4 linked regions of the Homo sapiens genome follow. The protein of the gene in region 2 interacts with the protein of the main gene of each other region in a biochemical or structural test. Each region holds a gene or a part of one and is shown on either strand. Other genes may lie near its edges. The genes, in order: ODF2, MARK4, RPTOR and MAP2.

The links.
Region 1: of the proteins of MARK4 (region 2) and ODF2, one has a biochemical effect on the other in vitro, tested with the Homo sapiens proteins (one study listed by BioGRID).
Region 3: of the proteins of MARK4 (region 2) and RPTOR, one has a biochemical effect on the other in vitro, tested with the Homo sapiens proteins (one study listed by BioGRID).
Region 4: of the proteins of MARK4 (region 2) and MAP2, one has a biochemical effect on the other in vitro, tested with the Homo sapiens proteins (one study listed by BioGRID).

Annotation. Positions count from the first base shown.
Region 1 is NC_000009.12:128,480,005-128,487,028, reverse strand, and holds part of ODF2 (outer dense fiber protein 2), read right to left. Parts: intron 6,817-7,024; exon of another isoform or gene 6,213-6,816; intron 5,450-6,212; coding exon 5,378-5,449; intron 4,214-5,377; coding exon 4,142-4,213; intron 3,092-4,141; coding exon 2,975-3,091; intron 2,329-2,974; coding exon 2,143-2,328; intron 1,665-2,142; coding exon 1,555-1,664; intron 1-1,554. UniProt on the Homo sapiens protein: Seems to be a major component of sperm tail outer dense fibers (ODF).
Region 2 is NC_000019.10:45,296,254-45,303,277, forward strand, and holds part of MARK4 (MAP/microtubule affinity-regulating kinase 4), read left to right. Parts: intron 1-1,422; coding exon 1,423-1,701; intron 1,702-1,889; coding exon of another isoform or gene 1,890-1,969; intron 1,970-3,557; coding exon 3,558-3,602; intron 3,603-6,120; coding exon 6,121-6,457; 3' UTR 6,458-7,024. UniProt on the Homo sapiens protein: Serine/threonine-protein kinase. Phosphorylates the microtubule-associated protein MAPT/TAU. Also phosphorylates the microtubule-associated proteins MAP2 and MAP4.
Region 3 is NC_000017.11:80,890,820-80,897,843, forward strand, and holds part of RPTOR (regulatory-associated protein of mTOR), read left to right. Parts: exon of another isoform or gene 1-900; coding exon 901-1,018; exon of another isoform or gene 1,019-1,352; intron 1,353-1,909; coding exon 1,910-2,050; intron 2,051-2,887; coding exon 2,888-3,046; intron 3,047-7,024. UniProt on the Homo sapiens protein: Component of the mechanistic target of rapamycin complex 1 (mTORC1), an evolutionarily conserved central nutrient sensor that stimulates anabolic reactions and macromolecule biosynthesis to promote cellular biomass generation and growth.
Region 4 is NC_000002.12:209,693,029-209,700,052, forward strand, and holds part of MAP2 (microtubule-associated protein 2), read left to right. Parts: coding exon 1-3,322; intron 3,323-3,513; coding exon 3,514-3,720; intron 3,721-3,888; coding exon 3,889-4,023; intron 4,024-7,024. UniProt on the Homo sapiens protein: The exact function of MAP2 is unknown but MAPs may stabilize the microtubules against depolymerization. They also seem to have a stiffening effect on microtubules.

The sequences.
Region 1 (7,024 bases), on a different chromosome or scaffold from region 2:
ACCCTTTGAAGGCAAGGACCAGAGACATGATCCCTTCCCAACTCCCTATGACACCTCCTGGAATCTCTCTGCCTATCAGGTCTTGGTGTTAGGACAGACGCTTCTGGAATCCCTTCTTGGACTCCCAGGCTGGTGGTCAGGGATTATCACCCAGGCATTCCTCTCCAGCAGGGCCCTGAGCACCCTGGGCTTTTGTACCCCCAGCAGGGGGCTGGTGCCATGATTGCTCATTCACATATGAACACTCACCTAACACAGGCAGGAACGGCAATGAGTGTGGTGTGGGAAAAAGGCACAAATAGAAAGACGCCAACTTAGAAGCCAGCTGCCTGCCCCACCCCCAGTCCCTTCTGCTCCCTGCTGCTGCCTCAGTCACTCAGCAAGGCCATCATCAGTCAAAGAGCAGAGACTGTGGCCTCAAGAGGAGCCCTGGGGCTCACAGGTGCTTACTCCTCTATCTTGACCACAGACCCATCAAAAACCCTTTGCACAATATGTGCTCTCAGTATTGACCAATTACAGTCCACCACTGAACACTGACTAGGCCCAAGCAAACATATCAGTTTGCTGGCAACTCCAGTTTACCTGGCAAACTCCTACTCACACTTAAAAACCCAGTTCAGACTTCAAGACATCTTGTCCCTGACCCCTCCCCTGTACCATGTATGCTTCTGTCTTAGGTATCTATGTTCTCCCACTAGACAGAGAACTCCCTAAGGACAGCAGCTGGCATAGAGCCTGGCACATAGTGAGTTCTCAGAACATGTTTGCTAAGTTGAGTTGAATACAGTAAGAGACTTTCCTGACCTGGGAGATTAAATGAGCTCCCCCATGACCTATCCTTAGTCCAGGGAGTCCATGCCTCTTGTAGCCCTATCTCCTCTACAGAGTAGAGGGCAGGGAATGCATTTGTCTTCTTACTGCTGTAACCCTGGTGGCCAGCACACAGCAGCTTGGTATATGGTAGATGCTCAATATATGTTTTTCCAATAAATGAAGGAAAAAAGGAGAATGATGGAATGGTCACTATTCACAGTTCGCCAGTGGCAAGAAAGGTGTCAGCTCAGTCACTTGCAAATTGAGGCCACTTTTGCCCCCTACTCCCATGCCATACCACTGACCTACTGACTGGCAGGCACTGGCAAACAGCTGCTGTCCCTGGACAGACAACAGAGAGAAGACACTCGGGTCACCATCTGCCCCATTCCCCAATAGGAATGAGGACACCACGGTGCCCATTTCAAATGCTGTGTAGACTGAGGACAGGATCAGGCCCAGGTGATGAAGTCAGACCCACACCTCTGACCAGAAAGACCCGGCCCCTAGCCAGTGCCTGACAGTAGGGTAGGACCCCAGGACTAGGGCCAGAGCTTGCACCCCAGCTCCAACCAGAAAGCCCAGCTCAGGGCTACCCACATCACAGCCCAGTGCAGCCCCCAACCCGGAGAGTACAAACAGCAGCCACGTGGCCTTCCCTGAGCCACTAGGCCCCTCCCACCTGCACACCCAAGTCCCTCAACAGCGCCACATTCCCTCTCCTACTCTAAGACGTACTCATTCAGGACAATAATTTCCAGCTCAAGGTCTCCCTTTTCTTTTACAACTTGGTTGTAGCGGCTCCTCCAGGATTCCAGAGTGGATAAAGCTTCAGCGACATAAAGATCCTGGGAACACGGGACAAAAGGGCCTGTTAGCCTAGTGTCAGTGGTGAGGCTGCCAGGAGCTGGGAGCGGGCTCATCCTAGGTGGTTTCTCACCCTGGTAACCTAAACCTCATTCTGGAATTCACCTTTCTAGAGGGCGCTGGAAGCAACAGTGGGAGCCCAGCTAGTGCTCCCAGATTTCTAGCAATCAAATGCATCCTGTTTGTAAATCCTTCCTTAACCATTATTCTCACCCACAAAGCTGATGTGGCTGAACTCTCCTACAAAGCCTCCAATCATCTCCAGCCACCCATCCCTCCAGCTTTTACCCATTTGATCCCCTTAACTCCCTCTCCCTCCTCCCCAGCCATCTATCCTTTCCACCACTACCATCCCTCATCCACCCACCCCTCCCCGCTACCCATCTGGCTGACCACCCCTCTGCCATCACCCAGCCCTCCTCAGGGCAGGTGAGGAGCTGGGCACCGCGGGCCTGCGACCTTGTCAGCGAGTTGCACGTGTAGCTGCTCAGCATACTCCTCGCTCTTCTCGGCTCGCTCCTTCTGGGCTCGGATGGCCTTCTTCAAGCTCTCTTTGTCTCGGTCTCCCTTCTGCTTCAACTCCTTCAGCTGCTCCATGATGGCCTCCACTTCTGCCTTATGCTGATTCCCGCTGCGCTCCAGATTCTGGAAGGGGGAAGGGGTGAGAAAGAGAGGGAGAAGAGAGACAAGGAGGTTGTGGGAAGGCAAAGCAGAGGGTGAAGGAGAAAGGGAGGAAAAGGCAAGAGCAAAGAGGAAACGAGGAAGACAGAAAAAAGTGCTTAGCTGTGTGAGAGGCTCCCCTAACTCGGACCAGAGACACAGTCCCTCCCAGCTCCCCACGACACCTCCCTGGATCTCTCAGCCCATGGGGTCTTGATATTAGGTCAGAACTGCTCTGGAATCCTTCCCTGAACTCCCAGCCTTGTGGTCAGAGATAGTTCCTTGGTCACTCAGCAGAGTATGACCTCAGAGGACCCCTGGGCTACAAAGAGACCATCCCTTTCCCTTGGGTAATGAGGAGAACTGAGGGCCTAGGGGATTAAGTGATAGGCCTGGGGGGCATGGCACGCAACCCCGTCACTGTTGGGAAGGATGCCCAACACCTCCTGGGTCTCTGTCCATTGCTCTTGCCACTGTCCTGGAATGTCTCTGAGGCCTGAGTATTTTGTCATCAGCTGCCTCAGAAACCTTTGGAGGCACACTTCCTGAGTGTGATATCTGGGCCAGGCCGCTACCATCAAATTGGCAGGCCCTTGCCTCCTCTTTCCCCACTTGTGGGGCCAATAGGTACCTTAATCTGCATGCACAGGCGACTGTTCTCAGCCTCTTTGGACCGAAGCTGTGCCTGCAAATGCCCACGCATGGACTCCATGGATTTAGAAAGCTCAGAGGCTGTCTTTGCTTGAGCCTGTGGAGAGACGGAAAAAGTGATGGAGGCACAATTTTTTGTTTGTTTTTTTCATACGGAGTCTTGCTCCGTTTCCCAGGCTGGAGTGCAGTGGCGCAATCTCAGCTCACTGCAACCTCCACCTCTTGGGCTCCAGCGATTCTCCCGCCTCAGCCTCCTGAGTAGCTGGGGTTACAGTCACGTGCCATCAAAACCGGCTAGTTTTTTGTATTTTTAGTAGAGACAGGGTTTCACCATGTTGGCCAGACTGGTCTCGATCTCCTGACCTCAAGTGATCCACCTGCCTCGGCCTCCCAAAGTGCTGGGATTACAGGCGTGAGCCACCGCGCATGGTCAATAATTTTTTTTTTTTTTTTTGAGACAGGGTATCACTGTTGCCAAGGCTGGAGTGCAGTGGCGTGACCATGACTCATTGCAGCCTCAGTCTCCCAGGCTCAAGTGATCCTCCCATCTCAGCATCCAGAGTAGCTGGAACTACAGGTGCATGCCACCACACCTGGCTGATTTTTTAATTTTAATTTTAATTTTGTAGAGATGGGGTCTCCCTGTGTTGCCCAGGACAGTCTCAAACTCCTGGCCTCAATGAGTCCTCCTGCATTGGCCTCCCAAAGTGCTAGGGAGTGGCCTAGGCTGGTCTCGAAAAAGTGCCAGACATGAGCTACTGCACCCGGCCCAAAGACAGGATTTGAACCCAGCTCTCTGCATATCCATTATATTCTACTGGCTCATAAAAATGCACAACTGCGGCTGGGCGCAGTGGCTCATGCCTGTAATCCAGCACTTTGGGAGGCCGAGGCAGGCAGATCACGAGGTCAAGAGATCAAGACCATCCTGGCCAACATGGTGAAACCCCGTCTCTACTAAAAATACAAAAATTAGCTGGGCGTGGTGGCGCACGCCTGTAGTCCCAGCTACTCGGGAGGCTGAGGCAGGAGAATCACTCAAATCCGGGAGGCAGAGGTTGCAGCGAGCTGAGATCGCGCCATTGCACTCCAGCCTGGCGACAGAGCGAGACTCCGTCTAAAAAAAAAAAAAAAAAAAGCACACTACCTTCTCACATTGTATTTCCTGAAGGAGCTCTTCCACCTCCTTGTCCTTGTCTTGCAGCAGTAACAGCAGGCGCTGGGAGAGAACACAGGCTGTCAGGTGCCCCTGGGAAGGGCAAAGAGGCCCGGCCCAGGGAGGACAGAGATTTGTGAGTACCTGGCCACTGGGGCCCAAGGTCCTACATACATTGGCCCATGTCAGAGATTCTGGTAGGAAGCACCTAACATATGCATTAAAACATTTTTTTAAAACAATGAACATGTATTTATTTTGCAATTTAAGAACAGCAATGTTAACTGTAGAAAACATTGAGAACACACCAAAAAAATCCTCCAAAGAAACCCCGTAACCCCCCATGCAGAGATAACCAGTTAATGCACATTGAAACTCATATGCTCAGCACCGTTAAAAAAAAAAAGTCATATGCCTACTTCGTTCCATAGCCTAAAAGCTCATGTTTACCATAATGTGATTAAATCTTCTGTGTCTTTTGAAAGAGCTGCTTGACGGTTCAAGTTACTGATGTATATCATAACTTAACAAGGGTTCTTGAGCTGGGAATGCACATTTAGGCATTATCGCCGAGCTTGCTGCATCTCCACTCCTTCCTCAACTAAGCATCAGAGGCCACAGACCACACCTTGGGAAACTGGGCCTCCGTCTCCCTCCCCTCTCTTGGAGACTTACAAAAGCATTAATACAGCAGACACTCCAAAAAAGTCTTGAAAGAAGCTGTTGAACTTCATGTTCAGGCCAGCCTATGGTTTCCCAAATTTAACTGGCTATGGAACCTCCCCTTCGGTTTCTTGCACTCATTAACATCTTGAGGAACTTAGGGTTCCATGAACAGACTTTGGAACATGCTGCTTTGGGAGAGATTCCTAGAATTAGGATTACTGAGTCCAAAGGTGTGTACTTTTTGATGGCTTTGAATCCATAATACTAATTTGATGGAAATCCAGCTTTAACAGACACGGATGATTTACAAATCCAACATCATCATTACCCTCTCTATGTTGGTGTCCAGCTTTGTGGCTCAAGGTCTCAAGTAACTAACTAGACAAGCCTATCAGAACAAGCGTGACAGGAGGACATCAGCCCATTTTACAGATCGTGAAACTAAGACCTAGCGAAATGCTCCAGCCCTCCTGCCTTGATCCAAGCACCTCTACACTTTGTAGTGGAACGACGCTCTTGCCACCTGTACCCACTAGAGTAGACAAGGGCAGCCTTAGTTACCGCTTTCTCTGAGTCGGCCTCCGCCAGCCGTTTCAGCAGTGCTCCTTGTTGCTCCATTAGTCTTTCAGAATCCTTCAAAGAAAGGCAAAGGAAAAAGTCAAGTCATTAAGCAATAAACCCAGATGTCTACATTTTATTGATTCTTTACCTTTTCCAAAAATTGTATTTTTTTTTTTTTTTAGAGTCTTACTCTGTTGCCCAGGCTGGAGTGCAGTGGTGCAATCATGGCTCACTGCAGCCTGGTCCTTCTGGGCTCAAGCCATCCTCCCATCTCAGCCTCCAAAGTAGCTGGAACAACAAGCATGCACTACCATGCCCAACTTTTTAAACATTATTATTATTTGTAGAGTTGGAGGGTCTCCCTGTTTGCCCAGGCTGGTCTTGAACTCCTGGGTTCAAACAATCTGCCTGCTTTGGCCTCCCCAAGTGCTGGGATTACAGGTGTGAGCCACCACACCTGGCCCAAAAAACTGTAGTTCTAATTTGAAAAGTAATGTGAATATATTCTCACTATAAAATAGTGAATGCTAATAAAGCTACAGTTCCTCCTGTACCCACCTCCAAACCCTACCCTACTGCTATTAGTTTGAGGAGTATCCTTCCCATCCTTTTTCTCTACATCTACAGAGAAATACTGTATTTCTCTGTATTGAAAATACTGTACAGAATACTGTATTGAAATACTGTTTCTCTGTAATGAAACAGCATTTTGCTGCATCAAGAGAAATACTGTTTGTCTCTGGGGGAAGGGGAAAGGGATTCATGTGTAACTTTAGGAAAATAATATCATATTGTATTTATGTGTTAATTTTTTTTAATTTTTTTTATTTTTTAGAGAGGAAGTCTCGCTCTTGTCCCCCAGGCTGGAGTGCGATGGCACGATCTCGGCTCACTGCAACCTCTGCCTCCCAGGTTCAAGCGATTCTCCTGCCTCAGCCTCCCGAGTAGCTGGGATTACAGATAACTGCCACCACGCCCGGCTAATTTTTGTATTTTTAGCAGAGACAGGGTTTCACCATGTTAGCCAGGCTGGTCTCAAACTCCTGACCTCAGGTGATCTGCCCGCCTTGGCCTCCCAAAGTGCTGGGATTACAGGCGTGAGCCACCATGCCCAGCTGTTACTTGATTTTTAAAAACAGCTTTATTGAGATATAAATTTGAACACCATTTAAAGTGTACAGCATGGTGACTATAATTAATGATGTATTATATACTTGAAATCTGCTAGGAGATCTTAAGTGTTGTCACCACACACACACAAAAAGGTAACCATGTGACGTGATGGATGTGTTAATCAGCTTGATTGAGGTGGTCACTTTACAATGTATATGGGTATCAAATCATCACGATGAACATCTTAAAATGTATACTACTTCTGTTTGTCAAATATACCTCAATAAAGCTAGAAGAAAAAATAAAGTATACAATTAAATGGCTTTGGTATATTCCATTATTAACTTTTAAAAATTGTGGTAAAATATATGTAACATAAAACTTGTCATTTTAACCTTTTTATTTCTTTTAGAGACACAGTCTAGCTCTGTCACCCAAGCTGGAGTGCATGTTGTAATCATGGATCATAGCTCACTGCAACCTTGATATCCTGGACTCAAGTGATCCTCCCACCTCAGCCTCCTCAGTAGCTGG
Region 2 (7,024 bases):
AAAATAAAAAGTATAGACTCAGCTAGCTGCTGTAATAAAAACAAAGAGATCCCAGGGTAGAGTAATTTAAATAAAAAGGACGTTTAGTCCGGAGGGTCCTCCAAGGACCCAGGTAAGTTCTTCCAGCCCCAAAATGAGTTTCCAGCTCTGGGACTGAGGCCGCTGCACCAGCAGCCATCATTTCCCAATCAGGAAGAAGTGGGGAAAGAGTAGGGGACAAGCAACAACTCTTTGTAAAGGCGTCACCCAGAGATGGTACAGAGCACTTCTGCTTATATCCCATTGGCCGGAGCATGGTCACATAACCATCTCTAGCTGCAAGAGAGTCTGGGAAATGTAGTCTCTGGCTGGGTGGCCATGTGCAGTGCTCATACTCTTAGGGGTTTGGTTACCAAGAACGAAACAGGGAGGATGGATTCTAAGGGAGAAGTAACAGCCTCTGCCACAATCAGGATTCTTCTCTGAGATCCAGGCTGGGCCTGGAGTCCCTGGGAGGATAGAAATTGGAGGTCTGGGCTGGGCGCAGTGGCTCACACCTGGAATCCCAGCACTTTGGGAGGCCAAGGCCAGTGGATCACCTGAGGTGAGGAGTTTGAGACCAGCCTGGCCAACATGGTGAAACCCCATCTCTCCTGAAAATACATAAACTACCCAGGCGTGGTGCTGCATGCCTATAGTCCCAGCTACTCAGGAGGCTGAGGCAGGAGAATCACTTGAACCCAGGAGGCAGAGGTTGCAGTAGCCAAGATTGCCCCATGGCCCTTCAGCCTAGGTGACAGAGTGAGACTCTGTCTCAAAAAAAAAAAAAAAAAAAATTAGCCAGGCATGGTGGCACACGCTTGTAATCCCAGCTACTCAGGAGGGTGAGGCAGGAGAATTGAACTCAGGAGATGGAGGTCTGGCCCCTGCTGTCGACTAGGAGGGTCCGAGGGGCTGGAGGAGGGTCCTGGGACAGTGGAACCCCCACTGCCCAGATTACCATAGTGAATACAGGTATCCTTGACCTTTACATCTATCCCTTTCCTGATTTTAGATGGTGAGAGTTCAGATAGCAAAGTGTTTGCCAAGTTGATTTGGTTCCTGAGGTTTCGGCAAATAGCAAGGAAGTCACCCAAAAATGTCTGTGCATCTATTCAGTTGCTGCGTTTAGAGAGAGGAGAGTTGTGATAGGAGATGATTTGGAGCGGGTAGAGTTTGAAGAAGGGACAGTTTGAAGGAGGGGTAATAGGAGAGGAGAGAGTCAGTAAAATAATGCTAGGATTGTATAGTGCACAGCCTGCACAACTGTACGTTGCAGCCCTGTCTCTGAGTTCCAGGCTGGTTGCAGTCCCTGGTCTCAGGACAGGAATGTGAAGAATCAAAGGGACTGGGGCCCTGGCCTGCCTCAGTCCCCCACCCTGACTTGTCTGTCTCTGCCCACAGCTCAGGCACCCCACGGGTGCCCCCTGCCTCCCCCTCCAGTCACAGCCTGGCACCCCCATCAGGGGAGCGGAGCCGCCTGGCACGTGGTTCCACCATCCGCAGCACCTTCCATGGTGGCCAGGTCCGGGACCGGCGGGCAGGGGGTGGGGGTGGTGGGGGTGTGCAGAATGGGCCCCCTGCCTCTCCCACACTGGCCCATGAGGCTGCACCCCTGCCCGCCGGGCGGCCCCGCCCCACCACCAACCTCTTCACCAAGCTGACCTCCAAACTGACCCGAAGGTGAGCTCCGCGGGGATGGCAGGGGCAGGGCGGGGCGGGGGGCCGATGGGACCTAACCTGTCTTCCACTCTGCTCTGTCTCCTGTACCCCAACATTTCCTCTTCCTCCTCCTCCTCCTCCTCGTTTCCTCCTCCTCCTCCTCCTTTCCTCCTCCCCTGTCACCCCTCACCTCCCTCCTCACACTGCAGGGTTACCCTCGATCCCTCTAAACGGCAGAACTCTAACCGCTGTGTTTCGGGCGCCTCTCTGCCCCAGGGATCCAAGATCAGTAAGTCCCGTCCATGCCCTGTTCTCGCTGGCTCTGCCTCCCTGCCTGCATGTCTGACCTGTGTGTGCGGGCATTGGGAGGGGGCTCTGTGGATGTGAGGGTCTGTGCGTGGGGTCTGGTTGTTCATTTACTCACAGAAGCACAGCCTATGGAGCCAGACTCGGGGGTTCAAATGGCAGCTCTGCCAAGTGACCTTGAGCAAGTCACTCAAGGTCTCTGGGCCTGGTTTTCCTCTTCTGTAAAATGGGTATAGTAATAACAATACCTGTCTCCTAGGGTTATTGTGAGGACTAAATGAAGTGACGTATGGACTGAGCGTAGAACATTGCCTTGGAAAGTGCTTTACATGTGTATTAGTTATTAATTGCTATTATTCATTGAGCCCCTACTGTGTGCCTGGCACTGTCCTAGGCCCTGTAGTAGAGGGTGAGCAAAATGTACAAAACTCCTGCCCTGGCAGACCCAACATTCTACTAAGGGATCTAGACAAAAAACAAAGAAATAAGTAAAATATACTTACTATATAGACTGCTAGGTAGTGCGAAGTAACTAAGAAGAAAAATAGAGTAGGAGCCAAATTTGGTGGCTTATGCTTGTAATCACAGCACTTTGGGAGGCTGAGGCGAGGGGATCACTTGAGCCCAGAAGTTCAAGACCAGCCTGGACAACGTAGCAAGATCCTATCTCTACAAAAAAGTAAATAAATTGGCCGGGCGTGGTGACTGCACCTGTATTCCCATGGAATTGGGAGGCCGAGGCAGGAGGATCACTTGAACGCAGGAGGTCAAGGCTGCTGTGAGCTATGATCATCAGTCTTGGCAACAGAGGGAGAACCTGTCTCTAAAAAAAAAAAAAAAAAAAAAAAAAATTGAACAGGGAGGGGAATAAGGGGTGTGGGGAAGGGATGGGGTGCAGCATTAAATGGGCAGGCCTCTGGATGAGGTGGCTCAGGCCAGCAATCCCAGCACTTTGGACAGATGACTTGAGTCCAGGAGTTTGAGACCAGCCTGGGCAATGTGGCAAAGCCCCATCTCTACAAAACAAAACAAAAAACAAAAAGCAGATGTGGCACGCGCCTGTAGTCCCAGCTACTTCAGGGGCCAAGGCAGGAAGATTGCTTGAGCCTGGGAGGTTGAGGCTGCAGCGAGCTGAGATCACGCCACTCCTGCATGACAGAGTGAGACTCTGTCTCAAAAAAAGAAAAAAGGGCAGGCCTCACGAAGGAGGTGTTGTTTGAGCAAAGCATGAATGTATATGTGAGCGAGGGAGTGTGTGTGTGTGCACACGTGCGTGTGTCTCTCTCTTTCTCTCTGTGGCCACTTATCTATGTAAGGGTGTGTCTCTGCCCACTCCCCTCCCTTTCATCTTCCACATTCTTCAGTATCTTTCCTGTGACCTGCACTAACCATTTCAGAATGAGCCCCGTTATGGGGATGGACAAGGAGATCAAATCCTGACTCCAGGCCCTCACCAGCCCGGAGGGACTGGGGTTGAGGCAGGGGCTGCTTGGAGTCCCAGAGGCAGTGGGTTGCGGGAGGTGGGTTCCCTATGTCCAGATTAGACACTCTGTCCCCCTCCCCTCCCCTAGGGTCGCAGACGAACCTGAGAGAATCGGGGGACCTGAGGTCACAAGGTGAGTGCTTGGGCCTACCCCTGACTGCCACTTCCCCTCTCCTGCCTCAGCACCTCCCGACACTTACCCCAGGGCATTAGATGGGGCCCCAGTCTCATCCTGCAAGGCCAACTTCCTGAAATGCCCTGTGGCCCCAGCCTTCTCTGCCAGCTCCTCTCATTCCCACCCAACCCCAAGCACCTTCCCTTGATCATCTTAAACTTCAGCCTCCGGCTGGGTGCCATGGCCCAAGCCTGTAATCCCAGCACTTTGGGAGTCCAAGGGAGGCAGATCACCTGAGGTCGGGAGTTTGAGACCAGCCTAAGATGGAGAAACCCCGTCGTTACTAAAAATACAAAAATTAGCCGGGCGTAGTGGCGCATGCCTGTAATCCCAACTACTCGGGAGGCTGAGGCAGGAGAATCGCTTGAACCCGGGAGGCAGAGGTTGCGGTGAGCTGGATTGTGCCATCGCACTCCAGCCTGGGTAGCAAGAGTGAAACTCCGTCTGAAAAAAAAAAAAAAAAAAAAAAAAAAGCCTCATCCCATCCACAACTCAACTCCTCTTCTGGTCAATGCCCCCACCTCCTTTTGCCTCTCATCCAGTCATGGCACAATGTTTGCTGGCAGCTCAGGGCCAGCAGGAGGCAAACATCTGTACGGACCCAGATCATGAAGATTTTAGGCTTTGAGGGCCAGGCACCCTGTGTCACGCCTGTTCAGTTGTGCCATTGTAGTGCAAAAGCAGTCATATTCAACACAAAACAAATGGGTATGGCAGTGTTCCAATGAAACTTTATTTACAAAAGCAGACAGCACTGGAGTTTGCCAAGCCCTGGTTTTGTCTGAGTTCCCGGTTTAGAGACCCAAGTGGAAACCGGAGCCTTCCCAGCAGCTGCAACAAACTGCCAGGGCTGACTCTCATTGGTTGGGACTTGGTCACATGCTCATTCCTAAACCAATGCCTGCAGCCAGAGAGGAGAAGTACTCTGGTTGGTCAGACCTGGTCATGTGGTCACCCTTGACCCAAGCACAGTGGCCGGGAAGTAGAATGCTATCATTGGCAGAGCTGAGTCGTGCTCACCCAAGCTGAGGGGCGGCCCCACCGGAACAAGGGAGGCTAGTCCTGGGATGCTCATGTAGAGCAGCACTCTCGTACTTCAGGCGGGACGTTTCTTTGTTGTGCAGGGCCCTCTTGCACATTGGAGAATGTTTTTCATTCCTGACCTACCCCATCCCCAACCTAGTCAGTGCCAGCAGTGCTCCCATCCTAAGACATGTGACAATCAAAAAGCCCCCAGAGGCCGAGCACAGTGGCTTATGCCTGTAATTCCAACAACTCAGGAGGCCAAGGCAGGAGGATCACTTGAGCCCAGGAGGTCGAGGCTGCAGTGAGCTGTGATTGCACTACTGCATTGCAAGACCCTGTCTCAAAAAAACTAAGAAGTGGCCGGGCACTGTGGCTCTCGCCTGTAATCCCAGCACTTTGGGAGGCCAAGGCAGGTGGATCACCTGAGGCCGGGAGTTTAAGACCTGCCTGCCCAACATGGTGAGACTCCGTCTCTACTAAAAATACAAAAATTAGCTGGCCGTGGTGCCTGTTCTCCCAGCTACTTGGGAAGCTGAGGCAGGAGAATTGCTTGAACCCGGGAAGCAGAGGTTGCAGTGGGCCAAGATTGTGTCATTGCCTTCCAGCCTGGGCGACAAGAGCGAAACTCTGTCTCAAAAAAAAAAAAAAAAAAAAAAGCCGGGCGCAGTGGCTCACACCTGTAATCCCAGCACTTTGGGAGGTCGAGGCGGGCAGATCACAAGGTCAGGAGATCGAGACCATCCTGGCTGACACGGTGAAACCGTGTCTCTACTAAAAATACAAAAATTAGCTGGGGCCAGGCGTGGTGGCGCGTGCCTGTAATCCCAACTACTCAGGAGGCTATGGCAGGAGAATCGCTTCAACCCAGGAGGCGGAGGTTGTGGTGAGCCGAGATCGTTCCATTGCACTCCAGCCTGGGTAACAAGAGCAAAACTCCGTCTCAAAAAAAAAAAAAAAAAGAAAAGGAAAAAGAAATTTCTCATTCAAACATTCAAACCATGTGGCCAAGCCAGGCTGGTAAGGCCACTGTGATCTATGCGGTCATTCAGGTCCCCAGGTTATTGCATCCCGATTCCCTGGAGCCCTTGTCATCTTCACAGTTGAGGCTGGCCTGTGCCACTGCTAAGTCCAGCTCCTGGGAGATGTGGGACAGGAGAGCCTGGCACATGCAGGTTCTTTGAAGGAACTGATGTGGATGGCACATCTCACTTCTGCTCATGTCCCAGAATTTACAGACAAGGTCACACCTGGTTGCAAGGGAGGCTGGAAAGTGTGGTCTCTAGCTGGGCAGCTCTGTATCCAGTTGAAACTGTCGCTGGGGTAACAGGGGAAGATGTTTTTTGAGGGGATGGCTAGGAATGTGTCCCGAATTGGGAAGAGTTGTCCCTTCAGCCCTCCACCACATTCCTCTTCGCTCCCATCTCTGACCCCTGACATCTTCTCGCCTCAGTTGCCATCTACCTTGGGATCAAACGGAAACCGCCCCCCGGCTGCTCCGATTCCCCTGGAGTGTGAAGCTGACCAGCTCGCGCCCTCCTGAGGCCCTGATGGCAGCTCTGCGCCAGGCCACAGCAGCCGCCCGCTGCCGCTGCCGCCAGCCACAGCCGTTCCTGCTGGCCTGCCTGCACGGGGGTGCGGGCGGGCCCGAGCCCCTGTCCCACTTCGAAGTGGAGGTCTGCCAGCTGCCCCGGCCAGGCTTGCGGGGAGTTCTCTTCCGCCGTGTGGCGGGCACCGCCCTGGCCTTCCGCACCCTCGTCACCCGCATCTCCAACGACCTCGAGCTCTGAGCCACCACGGTCCCAGGGCCCTTACTCTTCCTCTCCCTTGTCGCCTTCACTTCTACAGGAGGGGAAGGGGCCAGGGAGGGGATTCTCCCTTTATCATCACCTCAGTTTCCCTGAATTATATTTGGGGGCAAAGATTGTCCCCTCTGCTGTTCTCTGGGGCCGCTCAGCACAGAAGAAGGATGAGGGGGCTCAGCGGGGGGAGCTGGCACCTTCCTGGAGCCTCCAGCCAGTCCTGTCCTCCCTCGCCCTACCAAGAGGGCACCTGAGGAGACTTTGGGGACAGGGCAGGGGCAGGGAGGGAAACTGAGGAAATCTTCCATTCCTCCCAACAGCTCAAAATTAGGCCTTGGGCAGGGGCAGGGAGAGCTGCTGAGCCTAAAGACTGGAGAATCTGGGGGACTGGGAGTGGGGGTCAGAGAGGCAGATTCCTTCCCCTCCCGTCCCCTCACGCTCAAACCCCCACTTCCTGCCCCAGGCTGGCGCGGGGCACTTTGTACAAATCCTTGTAAATACCCCACACCCTCCCCTCTGCAAAGGTCTCTTGAGGAGCTGCCGCTGTCACCTACG
Region 3 (7,024 bases), on a different chromosome or scaffold from region 2:
GTGCGTAGACGGAGAGTGGGGTGGCCACGAGAAGACCCTGGTCCCTGGTGGGCGCCCATCCAGAGCCTGCTCATCCAGCCGCTGTGGAGACAGGGGCGTCACGCGACTAGCAAGGGGTCCTCTCACAGCGCTTGGCTTTCTGCTAAGAATCCGTATTTTTTCTTTTCAGAAAAAAAAAAGGCAGAAAAAGTTGTCGTAGGGAAAAAAACGTTCTTTCCGCTTTTTAAACCTACATCCCCCTTCTGTTCCCCAGTGACTTCTAGGATCTCCAGCTGTTCCTGTCACAGCACTGAACTGTCCTAAAAGAGAGGCAAATTGTGTCTGTTCCCTTGGACCAAGGCATTTGGTCCTAAAGATGATGTTTTAGTTCTACAACTTTTCCCGTTCCCTCTTAGGGACTAGAAACATCTACCAATGAAAGTTTCACATGTGTTGAAAAGAGCAGGCTTCGGCTTGTCCGCTGCACTCGGCCCTGGGGCGCTCAGATTCAGAAAGGCCGCCAGCCATCGGGTGTGATCTAGAGCGGCGTTTTCAGCCAGGGTCCCAGTGGTCACCGTAAGCGAGAGGCTGTGAGGCCTCCTACCTTTCCCTCTCTGGAGTCCTGTGACTCACCGTGTCCTTACGAGACCCCCGATGCGTCGTGCGCCTCTAGCAGTGGGGAGGATTCTGGCAGGCATTCTGGGCTTCCCCCGTGAGCCAGTGGCCTGCCGTCTCCCAGCACTCTGCTATTCCAAGGCCTCTGCTCTGACGGTTCGAAAAGGGATGGTCCCTGTTTCTGATGCCAATTGCACGGTTTTGTCTTAACCTTTCTTTTTTCTGTTGGTGACTCAAGTCTCACTGCTGCTCCACAATCATTTTCCAGCCCCAGTGACTGTTATTGTCCCTTCTCCCTCTCGGCAGGAGCTGGTGGTGGCTCTGAGTCATCTTGTGGTTCAGTATGAAAGCAATTTCTGCACCGTGGCCCTGCAGTTCATAGAAGAGGAAAAGAACTACGCCTTGCCTTCTCCAGCAACCACAGGTATGGCGTCTTCTCCTGTGAACCCGCAGAGCACCTCGCCTGGCGGTTCTAGTGCAGGCCGCGGCCCAGTCTTGCTCACCCTCGCAGAGTCTAAGCGCAGGTTTCTCAGATACCTGCCGCAAGGGGTCCCTGTTTTTCTCATCTTTTTAGGCACCTGCCAGATTTAAAAGGGCAGGAAAGAGGGCCACACTGACCCTCTTACATTTTTCCTTTCTTTTTACCCTTTTTGGAAATTAAACTCACAGAGACCTTGAAGTATGACAAAACTTCTGCAGTAGGAGCTTGCGGAAAAGCGCAGGGGCCGTCTTCCTGCGATGAGTAATTTCATCACACTGCTCTTGGCTCCGTGGCTCGGTGAGTCATGTCAGGCGTGCTTTCTCACACGTGTCGTTTTGACTGGAGAGTACAGTTCCTATCTCATCGCTGCCGGCAGCCCCTCCCGCTTCCACACAGCCGTCTCTGCCGTGCAGGGGCTTGTCATCAGCAGTGAGGCCTCACTGCTTCTAGGAAGCCCAGGAGGGGAGAAGGGTGAGCCAGACTGAGTGTGGACGGTCATTGCTCTGCTGCGGCTTCCCGGGGAGCACGGCTCACGGCCCACGTCACCATGCACCTCGTGTGCACTCGGACAGGCCGCAGCCACCAGCCTCTCCCCTGTTGTCTTTTGTAATTTAATATGCACAGAGCCACAAGCGGTTGTTGTTTGTCCAGTGCTATCCCGCAGAGCCTCCGCTCACGTCTGAGTCTCCCTGAGCTGTGCAGCCCCTGCTCTGACATTTGTTGCAGCACAGGTAGCAGCTGCCGTCACCGAGTGTCCCAGCTGCTGAGTGTCAGAAGACACGCTGGCCTCCACCTGGAAGCCCATTGTAATTTGTCTTTCTCCTTCTTTCCCAGAGGGAGGGAGTTTGACCCCAGTGCGAGACAGCCCGTGCACCCCCAGACTTCGTTCTGTGAGCTCCTATGGAAACATCCGTGCTGTCGCCACAGCCAGGAGCCTCAACAAATCTTTGCAGAACCTGAGTTTGACAGAGGAATGTAAGATCCTGGAAATCGGGTTATTGGATTGGGAGAGATTGGGGTTGTTTTTTCTGAAACACTGTATCTGAGTAAGCACCACTCTGCCCCTGCCCCTTCGTCTAAGTGCGTGCCCTGAAGTCCCATCTGCCAACATGGTGATGAGTCACCCTTCCAGACGTGAGCATGGCAAGGAGGCGTAGGCCAGCCCCCAGAATAGCCAGCGGGCCCGTTACCAATGCGGCAGGGAGCTCAAGCGCAGCCGCAGTTGAGGCGGTGGCTCCTTGGAGGGCTGTGCCCTGCCCCCGTCTCCCAGTAACCTGTGGTCTGCGGGTGGGGAGCTTGGCTCCCAGGGAGATCAGTGAGTGCCTGTGCCTGTGTGTGCGCCGGGGCGTGTGTGCCAGGGTGTGTGCGCCAGGGTGCGTGTGTACCAGGGTGTGTGTGCGCCGGGTGTGTGTGTGCGCCAGGTGTGTGCGCGCGCCAGGTGTGTGTGCGCCAGGGTGTGTGTGTGCTGGGTGTGTGTGCACAAGGGTGTGTGCATGCCAGGGTGTGTGTGTGTGTGTACAAGGGTGTGTGTGTGCCAGGGTGTGTGTACTGGGTGTGTATACGCGCCAGGTTGTGTCTGTACGCGCCAGGGTGTGTGCGCCAGGGTGTGTGTGTATGAGGGTGTGTGTATGTCGGGTGTGTGTACATGCCAGGGTGTGTGCGCACCAGGGTGTGTGTGTACCAGGGTGTGTTTGTGCCTGGGTGTGCTGAGCTTTATTTAGAAGAAAATATGTATCTCAGTCATGCCATTAACTGTAAGACCAAAAGGAGGGTCCCGGGAGCACCCCACTGACCCCGTTGCGTCTCGGGCAGCTGGTGGCGCGGTGGCGTTCTCCCCCGGAAACCTCAGCACCAGCAGCAGCGCCAGCAGCACCCTGGGCAGCCCCGAGAATGAGGAGCATATCCTGTCCTTCGAGACCATCGACAAGATGCGCCGCGCCAGCTCCTACTCCTCCCTCAACTCCCTCATCGGTGAGTCCGCCTGCCCCTTTCTGCTTCCGAGGGGCCCCGAGGGTCTCCTCCCCACACAGAGCAGCACAGACCTGTGTCTGCATCAGGTCAGTGGGTGTCAAAACTGTCTGTTCAAAAGAAAGAATAAAGGTCAACAGGACTGCGAGGCAGGGAGAACGTTTTGCTGGGGCAAGCGGGAAAGTTGACATCACTGTTGTGTTGGGGTAGTATTTTACAGGCTGCTCCGGAGCCATCGGAGCTGGCCAGTTTGGCTGGGTGGGAAGGCTGCCAGAACCTTCCATCTTTGTTCCATAGACGGGTGAGAGTTCTTCATGGTGCTGGACACCCTGGTGATGCAGAACGGTGGTTCTCAGCCGGGGGTGGTTTTGCCCCCCACGAGCAACTGGGGTACAGTAGGGGTGCTCCTTGTCCCAGTGGGTGAGGCCAGGAAGCTGCTCACATCCCCTGGTGCCCAGGACAGCCCCCACACAGTGTCCGCAGTGAGAGGCGGAGGGCCCTGCGGTCGGGCTGGGGGCTGTCATCCCCGCCCTGCTCACCTGCGGAATCTCCACACAACTTTCCCTCCATCCCAGCAGCTTGACGCAGCACTGCCTGGAAATGGAAATCTGACGGAAGGGTCAGATTCTTCTCTTGTTCTGCCATGAATGGTGTGTGCCTGGGTCCTACCACCAGGATTGCTGTTGTAAAACAGGAGAAGCAGGAATTCACCGTGTTTTCTTATTGTGTAGCTATGTTCATCTTCACACTGCTGGTAACAGATTTAGGGCTTAACCAAATGAGCCTCATCTCCTCTTGTTCTGACTATCCAGAGTGGCTTACCGGCTTCATTTGAATTTTTTTCATGTTAAGGAGCATTTTAGCCATGTAAAAATTTACAGAGACTTATATAAGAGCGCTGCGTGTGTGTGTGTGTGTGTTGTGTTCCCAGCTTAAGGAATTACAGAGGTCGAGCCCCAGACCCTACCCCGGTCCCATTCCCTCTGGTGACATTACACTTTCCCTCCCTGGCCATGAGCCCTGGCACACACGTGGTGCCCACTTAGAGGCCTTTACCTCCTATTGGCGCCGTCGCACGATGCGTGGCCCGCAAAGCCCGTTTCTTTGGCTCTGACTTCAATATGTATCTTTGATGGTCATCTAGGTTTTGTTCCTTCACCTCCGCGATCTGCCGTGACTCCATTATCCATTCTCCTGTCTGGGGACAGTGAGGCCGGTTCTAGTTTCTTCTTGCCTTTTGTTCCTTTTCTTAATAAGCAAACTCAGAATTCAGCCCCTGCCACCATGGAGCCCCACATCCAACACACCCTCACTCGCTGCACCCAGCTCTGCTGGGCCCCAGCCTACCCGGCCCCCAGCCTGGGCATCGGTGGGGAAGCTCTTCTCCGGCATATGGTGGCCGCTCCCCTCTCATTCAGAGCCCCCATCTGGCAGCACCTTCCCAGAAGCCTCCCCAGCCCCACGCCCCACCTGGAATCAGGCTTCCCCAGCTGCCCTCTGACCCTGCTCCCTTTTCCTGCTTTATTTTTCTCCTGAGGACTGTGGACTGCAGACGTGCTGTACGTGTAACTTGTTCATTGGCCCGGCCCATCTCTCTCCCCTGGAGCTTGAGAGCCGCACGTGCAGGAACCCAGCCTTGTTAACCACTGTCTCCTCCCACCCTGTCCACACCCAGTGCCTGGTACGCAGTAGGTGCTCAATACACATAAACGGGCACGTGTGTGGTGCGTGTTCTTCAGCGTGGATACACGTGAGTGCCTCTCGCCACCTTGCCTCAGAGTGAAGCTGCTGCGTGAACGGTGCCTGCACCTTCAGCTTTTGTAGATGTCGCCCCAGGCCTTCCACGGGATCCTCTGTTCTAAAGCGCAGGCGCCCCCATCTCGCCACTCTCTACCACGCCGGTCTTGGCCAGCCTTTGTCTGTCTGATAGACACACCTGGTGTCTCCTTGTGGCATGAATTTGCATCTGCCTTGATTGCAGTGAGGTTACAGCCTTGCAGCCTTACAGACTCGCCTTGTGTCGTTTATCTTTCTCTGAGTAGTTTGTAATCAGCATTCATCACAGTTCTGGGTGCTGATTCCTGGCTGAATATATCCATCGAAAATGCATCTAATCTATGACTTTTTATGATGCCTTTGGTGCCACACAAGCTTAATCTTTTAGTTTCTCTTTTTCTTTATAACTTGGGCCTTTTGTGTCTTGTTTTTCCTATTCTCAATGTCCTAAACATATTCTCCTACATTTTCTTCCAAGATTTAAAATTTTCCTTTTTTGTGTTCATGTCTTAAGTATATCCTGAACCACATTTTGTCTCTGTGGTGAGGTGGGGATCCAGGTTGTATTTTTTCTTTATGCCACCCCAGACCCTTCATCAGACAGCCCGTCCTCCCGCCAGTGCTTCTCAGCGTCTCCCTGGCCATCAGTCCTTAGGGTCTGAGTGGGGGCTCCATTCTTAGCAGCACCCATCCCATCCACGGCCGCGCCGACACCCCACACAGCCGCCCCGACACCCCACGCGGCCTCGCTGACACCCCACGGCCGCAGCAACACCCCACACGGCCTCGCCAACACCCCACGGCCATGCCGACACCCCACACGGCCGCACCGACACATCCCACGGCCGCACCGACACACCCCACGGCCGCACCGACACCCCGCATAGCCACCCCGGCACCCCACGGCCGCGCCGACACCCCACACAGCCGCGCCGACACCCCACACGGCCGCGCCGTCACACCACAGCTGCGGGGGCAGCACCTTTGAGCCCGCTCCTCAGTTCGTTTCTCAGAACTGTCTTGGCCGCTCTTAGCCCTTTGCTCTGCTGTATACATTTCACAGTCAGGCTTTCTGTGTCGACAGCAGCCTCACTGGGGTGTTGTTTGAATGGCGCTGAATTGGTGGATTTCCCTGGGATGACTGACTTCCTTGCATCATGAGTCTTCCTGCTCCTGAACAGGGTGTATCTTTCCATTTACTTAAGTCTTCTTTATGTCTTCAAGACAGTCTAACTTTCTGCATAAAGGTCACAGGCATGACGTTACCTTTCAGTTTTTGTAATTTTAAGTAATATCTTTTTTAAAACCTGTTGCTGGCAAAAAAAGAAAGAATGCCAGTGGGCTGGGCACGGTCCCTCACGCCTGTAATCCCAGCACTTTGGGAGGCGGAGGCCGAGACGGGCGGATCACGAGGTCAGGAGATCAAGACCATCCCGGCCAACATGGTGAAACCCTGTCTCTACTATAAAAAAATTAGCCAGGTGTGGTGGTGCGCACCTGTAGTCCCAGCTACTGGAGGAGAATCACTTGAACCGGGGAGGCGGAGGTTGCAGTGAGCGGAGATCACACCACTGCACTCCAGCCTGGCAACAGAGCAAGACTCCATCTCAAAAAAAAAAAAAAGAATGGCAGTGGACATCTGTGTTTCTCTCTTGAGAGTAAACGAAACCTTTCTAACCTTTTACCTTTGATACGACATTTGCTGTAGATTTTTTGAGTGGGTGCTCTATATCAGTTTATAGAAATTCCCTTCCCTTTGGTTCACTCTTTTTATGAGTGCAAATTCCCATTCTATTCTAGTTAGTTAAGAATTTTCCTGATAAATGGAATTAATTTCTTTGAATGTATTTTCTGCATCTCAGAATGACCCTGTGCATGGCTGTTTGTTAGGGTAGGGAATTACATGATTGAATTTCTTGTGAAATATCCTTGCATTTCTGGGGGCACCCAGCGTGGTAATGTCCCCTGACATCGCTGCCTTACGCTCACCAGCTATTTCTTTGGGCGCTCCCCATTGGCATTCACGAGTGGGTTGGGCTGTGACTTTTCTTGTCCTGACCTGGCTGGTTTAGACATTGAGTCTGTACCTGCCTAGTAAAACTGGCTCCTCCGGGCATGGTGACAGGTGCCTGTAATCCCAGCTACTTGGGAGGCTGAGGCAGGAGAGTTGCTTGAATTCGGGCAGCAGAGGTTGCAGTGAGCCAA
Region 4 (7,024 bases), on a different chromosome or scaffold from region 2:
GGCCCTCTGACTCCCATGAGGGAAAAAGATGTATTTGATGATATCCCAAAATGGGAAGGGAAACAGTTTGATTCTCCCATGCCAAGTCCCTTTCAAGGGGGAAGCTTCACTCTTCCTTTAGATGTCATGAAGAATGAAATAGTTACAGAAACATCGCCCTTTGCCCCTGCCTTTTTACAGCCAGATGACAAAAAATCTCTGCAACAAACCAGTGGCCCAGCTACTGCCAAAGATAGTTTTAAAATTGAAGAGCCCCATGAGGCTAAACCTGACAAAATGGCAGAAGCACCACCCTCAGAGGCAATGACCTTACCCAAAGATGCTCACATTCCAGTTGTAGAAGAACATGTTATGGGGAAAGTTTTAGAGGAAGAAAAGGAGGCCATAAATCAAGAGACTGTGCAGCAAAGGGATACTTTCACCCCCAGTGGACAGGAACCTATACTTACTGAAAAGGAAACTGAGCTGAAGCTTGAAGAAAAAACCACCATTTCTGACAAAGAAGCTGTGCCAAAAGAGAGTAAACCCCCAAAACCTGCAGATGAAGAAATAGGCATAATTCAGACCTCCACAGAGCACACTTTCTCAGAACAGAAAGACCAAGAGCCTACCACAGATATGTTGAAACAGGACTCGTTCCCTGTAAGTTTGGAGCAAGCAGTTACAGATTCAGCCATGACCTCTAAAACACTGGAGAAAGCCATGACCGAACCATCTGCATTAATTGAAAAGAGCTCAATTCAGGAACTTTTTGAAATGAGAGTTGATGACAAAGATAAGATTGAAGGAGTTGGAGCTGCAACATCAGCTGAGCTTGATATGCCATTTTATGAAGATAAATCAGGAATGTCCAAGTACTTTGAAACATCTGCCTTGAAAGAAGAAGCAACAAAAAGCATTGAGCCAGGCAGTGATTACTATGAACTGAGTGACACTAGAGAAAGTGTCCATGAGTCTATTGATACCATGTCTCCCATGCATAAAAATGGTGACAAGGAGTTTCAAACAGGAAAAGAATCCCAGCCCAGTCCTCCAGCACAAGAAGCAGGGTACAGCACTCTCGCACAGAGTTATCCATCAGATTTACCTGAAGAACCCAGTTCTCCTCAAGAAAGAATGTTCACTATTGATCCAAAAGTGTATGGAGAGAAAAGGGACCTCCACAGTAAGAATAAGGATGATTTGACCCTTAGCAGGAGTTTAGGACTTGGTGGTAGGTCTGCAATAGAACAAAGAAGCATGTCAATCAATTTGCCGATGTCTTGCCTAGATTCCATAGCCCTTGGATTTAACTTTGGTCGGGGACATGATCTTTCTCCTCTGGCTTCCGATATTCTAACCAACACTAGTGGAAGTATGGATGAAGGGGATGATTACCTTCCAGCCACCACACCTGCACTGGAGAAAGCCCCTTGCTTCCCTGTAGAAAGCAAAGAGGAAGAACAGATAGAGAAAGTAAAAGCTACTGGAGAAGAAAGTACTCAAGCGGAGATATCATGTGAGTCTCCTTTCCTAGCCAAAGATTTTTACAAAAATGGTACTGTCATGGCACCTGACCTTCCTGAAATGCTAGATCTGGCAGGCACAAGGTCAAGATTGGCTTCTGTGAGTGCAGATGCTGAGGTTGCCAGGAGGAAATCAGTCCCATCAGAGACTGTGGTTGAGGATAGTCGTACTGGCTTGCCCCCGGTAACTGATGAAAACCATGTCATTGTAAAAACGGACAGTCAGCTCGAAGACCTGGGCTACTGTGTGTTCAATAAGTACACAGTCCCATTGCCATCACCTGTTCAAGACAGTGAGAATTTATCAGGGGAGAGTGGTACCTTTTACGAAGGCACTGATGATAAAGTTCGAAGAGATTTGGCCACAGACCTTTCACTGATTGAAGTGAAACTGGCAGCAGCCGGAAGAGTCAAAGATGAGTTCAGTGTTGACAAAGAAGCATCCGCGCATATCTCTGGTGACAAATCAGGACTGAGTAAGGAGTTTGACCAAGAGAAGAAAGCTAATGATAGGTTGGATACTGTACTAGAAAAGAGTGAAGAACATGCTGATTCAAAAGAACATGCCAAGAAAACTGAAGAGGCTGGTGATGAAATAGAAACATTCGGATTAGGAGTAACCTATGAGCAAGCTTTGGCCAAAGATTTGTCAATACCAACAGATGCATCCTCTGAGAAAGCAGAGAAGGGTCTTAGTTCAGTGCCAGAGATAGCTGAGGTAGAACCATCCAAAAAGGTGGAACAAGGTCTGGATTTTGCTGTCCAGGGTCAACTAGATGTTAAAATTAGTGACTTTGGACAGATGGCTTCAGGGCTAAACATAGATGATAGAAGGGCAACAGAGCTAAAACTTGAGGCTACACAGGACATGACCCCCTCATCCAAAGCACCGCAGGAGGCAGATGCATTTATGGGTGTTGAGTCTGGCCACATGAAAGAAGGCACTAAAGTTAGTGAGACAGAAGTCAAAGAGAAGGTGGCCAAGCCTGACTTGGTGCACCAGGAGGCTGTAGACAAGGAGGAGTCCTATGAATCTAGTGGTGAGCATGAAAGTCTCACCATGGAGTCCTTGAAAGCTGATGAGGGCAAGAAGGAAACATCTCCAGAATCATCTCTAATTCAAGATGAGATTGCCGTCAAATTGTCAGTGGAAATACCTTGCCCACCTGCTGTTTCAGAGGCTGATTTAGCCACAGATGAGAGAGCTGATGTCCAGATGGAATTTATTCAGGGGCCAAAAGAAGAAAGCAAAGAGACCCCAGATATATCCATCACGCCTTCTGATGTTGCAGAGCCATTGCATGAAACGATCGTATCTGAACCAGCAGAGATTCAGAGTGAGGAAGAAGAGATAGAAGCCCAGGGAGAATATGATAAACTGCTCTTCCGCTCAGACACCCTTCAGATAACTGACCTGGGTGTCTCAGGTGCCAGGGAGGAATTTGTGGAGACCTGCCCAAGTGAACACAAAGGAGTGATTGAGTCTGTTGTGACCATCGAGGATGATTTCATCACTGTAGTGCAAACCACAACTGATGAAGGGGAGTCAGGGTCCCACAGCGTGCGTTTTGCAGCCCTAGAGCAGCCTGAGGTGGAAAGGAGACCATCTCCTCATGATGAAGAAGAGTTTGAAGTAGAAGAGGCAGCTGAAGCCCAGGCAGAACCCAAAGATGGTTCCCCAGAGGCTCCAGCTTCCCCTGAGAGAGAAGAGGTTGCACTTTCTGAATATAAGACAGAAACCTATGACGATTACAAAGATGAGACCACCATTGACGACTCCATCATGGACGCTGACAGCCTCTGGGTGGACACTCAAGGTGTGCATTATTATTATTATTATTTTAACTCAAACACAATAACCTTATGGGAATTTTTTTTCACTTAAACATTTTAAAATACCTCTTTATCTCTTTATTTTGTATTTTGTTAAATATACAAAGGATTTTGTACACTTGTTACTAATGTTTTCACTGTTGTTGTTGTTGTCATGATTTGCTTTGATCCACAGATGATGATAGGAGCATCATGACAGAACAGTTAGAAACTATTCCTAAAGAGGAGAAAGCTGAAAAGGAAGCTCGGAGATCATCTCTTGAGAAACATAGAAAAGAAAAGCCTTTTAAAACCGGGAGAGGCAGAATTTCCACTCCTGAAAGAAAAGTAGCTAAAAAGGAACCTAGCACAGTCTCCAGAGATGAAGTGAGAAGGAAAAAAGGTTCATTTAACAATCACTTCTTTAAAAATGTTTTTGAAGTAATTCATTATTACTTTTTTGCAGAACTGCCTAACAGTGGTAACTAATTATTTATAAAATTTCGTTCGGTTTTGCTCCACGTGTTTATTTTTTCCTGATGGTATGCTTTTTGTGTTTTCTTATTCATAGCAGTTTATAAGAAGGCTGAACTTGCTAAAAAAACAGAAGTTCAGGCCCACTCTCCCTCCAGGAAATTCATTTTAAAACCTGCTATCAAATATACTAGACCAACTCATCTCTCCTGTGTTAAGCGGAAAACCACAGGTGACTGTTCAATTCTGCAATGTGACTGGCAAACATAGACATGTATTTTTTTTTTAAATCTCATTACTGTAGCAGCTTCTTCATTTTGTTTTTCTTCCAAGAATCTCAGCAGTCATGAACAATTTTGCTATTAAGTGTCTTGTATCATTATTCTTTTTTCCCCCCTCCTTACAGAAAAGGTCATGACCATCTGTTTCTTTGTCATGCTCAGACATAACAGTGCGTGATTGTATCTTGGCATTGTGCTCTAGTGTCACGTTCTGGGGATTCCTATTTTCATTCTGTGTGTTTGGTTAGACGATGGCGATGAATTTAACTGTGGTATGCATTCTCATTATTTTGCTTATTTATCTCTCTCATGCTTAAACCCATAAATATTTGTCCTATTTTCTACATTGTTACTGCCAAATCTGTTACTGATGTTGATGAATTTATTGAAAACCACCAAGAATGTGTAGTGATTTAGATACTGAAAATGAAAAGCAAGCCAGGAAGTGAAATTGTGGTTTGCAAAATTACTATTACTTTGCTTTTGCTGAAAAAAAGAAGATAGAAAACAAAATTTTCTGGTAATTATATCAGATTTTATTCCTCATATCCAAAATTAACAAGATTTTCACTCTACTGAACTACATCTCTTAGCTGACATTTTGTCATGGAGATTTCTTAAATATGTTGGATCCAAACTGCTCGACTTTTCTATATAATTTAGTTTCACAAATTTGAAGCTAAAACTCTTCCTTTTAGGAGGAACTTCAGTTAGAAATAAACTTCGGTTTATTTTTACTTTGCTGTCTACTTTTTTTTTGTTTCCCAAGACGGAATCTCGCTCTGTCGCCCAGGCTGGAGTGCAGTGGCACGACCTCGGCTCACTGAAACCTCCACCTCCTGGGTTCAAGCAGTTCTTCTGCCTCAGCCTCCGGAGTAGCTGGGATTACAGGCGTGCACCCAGCTAATTTTTTTTTTTTTTGTATTTTTAGTAGAGACGGGGTTTCACCATCTTGGCCAGGCTGGTTTTGAACTCCTGACCTCGTGATCCACCTGCCTCAGCCTCCCAAAGTGCTGGGATTACAGGCATGAGCCACTGCACCCGGCCTGCTATCTACTTATTACTCTTCTTCAAATACATATTTTTTCCTAAGTTTATAAAACTGGTAAAACAAAGGAATGAAACTTGTTGGAAACCATCATAAAAACCCCTACAAATATCTGTAATGCCAACTTTTTTCTAAATTTCAGGGCAAAGTATTTATTTTATATGTTTAATTATACTAGGATAATCTTACCTTACACTATATTTTATTTTAGCATTTATTAAGTGGCATGCTTGTAGTCTACAAAATGACAGATTGCTAAATCAGAAAAGAATGTTTTTCTTTCCATTGTACATCATCAATGCCTCTATATAAATCTTCGGATGGTTTTAAAGGTTAAGAGGAACATTAGCCTTTGTGAGAAAGAGAAAATCAAGGTAACTGATGGTTTTATTTTAGCCATTGAAAATTCCAAGTATTTTGTATTTGTGTTCTTCATCTAGAAATCATATCATGTGCTTTCCTTCAAAAACAAGAATCTAAGGCAGGATTTGAAAATAGAAGGCTTGTATATACGCACACCTTGATAAAGCTTCAGGATGAAGAATATATCTGAAGCTAGGAGTTAGGAATTAACGTGACATACCTCAATTCATTTTCTCAGGTTTTTAGCTTCATTAAACTTAGAACTTCATTAAACTTAATAGCAAATTAATAGCTTCATTAAACTTAGTAGCAAAATTGCTTGGGCAAGCAGAATCTCTTGATTTAGCATAAAAACTCTATAACCTACCTAAAAGGATGAAAGATGTCATCAGGATTGTGGAATTTTAGAGAAAACGTAAAATGGTTTAGTAAAGTGTTTACATGTCATTGGTATTCAATTTGCCACATTTAAAGTAAATTGTGTTTTTATTCATTCTTTGAAAGAAATTTAAAATCTTTGAACTAATGAAGATTTTCCTTTATTCTGGTCTAATGTTAAGATACTTTAGGAGAAAGCATGTATCAGATGTAGGTGTCATTGGTTTGAAGCAAGCTATACATGTCACAAGAATTTGAGTTATATTACAGAGATAGTAGTAAGGCATCGTTTTCACTGCTTCCTTAAAAACAATGAGTCCTAGAATCTGAAAAATCTCACTAGCTAGTCCTACATGGCATAAAGCATATTGTAGACAGTTATTATGTTTGTGTCAGAACTGTACCTGTCATAAAAATACCTTTTTAGAACTTATTCAGAGGGCTTATAAGGATACATTTTTTTTCTGAGGGTTTCTATTTTATGAATGAAAATTAAGGAGGAATAAACACACAAGCTTGATTATTTTATCTTCTAAGCCCAATTTTCAAACATAGATGGTTTTCCAAACCACAAGGGATTGTTTTAAATCATGAGAGCTAAGCTACCTCAGGTAAGTCATCAACCAAAATGTGCTAGAGATAATGGAGTTTAAAATTGAATCCAGAAGCATAAAACAGCAGCAAGAGAAACAACAGTAACAGATGTGGTAATAATTTCATACAGGAAGTGCATGTGTAGAACATGTTCTGTATTTACTGAACTTAAATTTTCTCTCGTGTTTTCTGTTCTTGACAAGCTATTTTTCTTCCCTTCTCATGTGGCATTTTCACATCAAACAAGTATGTCATTCATATTGTGAAATGAAGGGATACAAAGGGAAAGGGGTTAGCTGATCATGACAGTTTGAAATGTAAAATACCGAAATATCTATGGTTATGCCAGTGGCTTCCAGAACAAGAAGAGGGTTTGGAAATCTCTATGAACCCTCTTCTATATATCATGTGAACCCCAGAAACCAATCAGTGTTCTTTTTCTTAAATTTTGCAACATTCACATTGCTATTCTGTAACTTCTGTTCTAAAGGATCTCCTTACGTACTAGTGATTCAAAGATACATTGGTAATCAATAGAAAAATTACGTGGTGTGCTTACCTGCACTTTG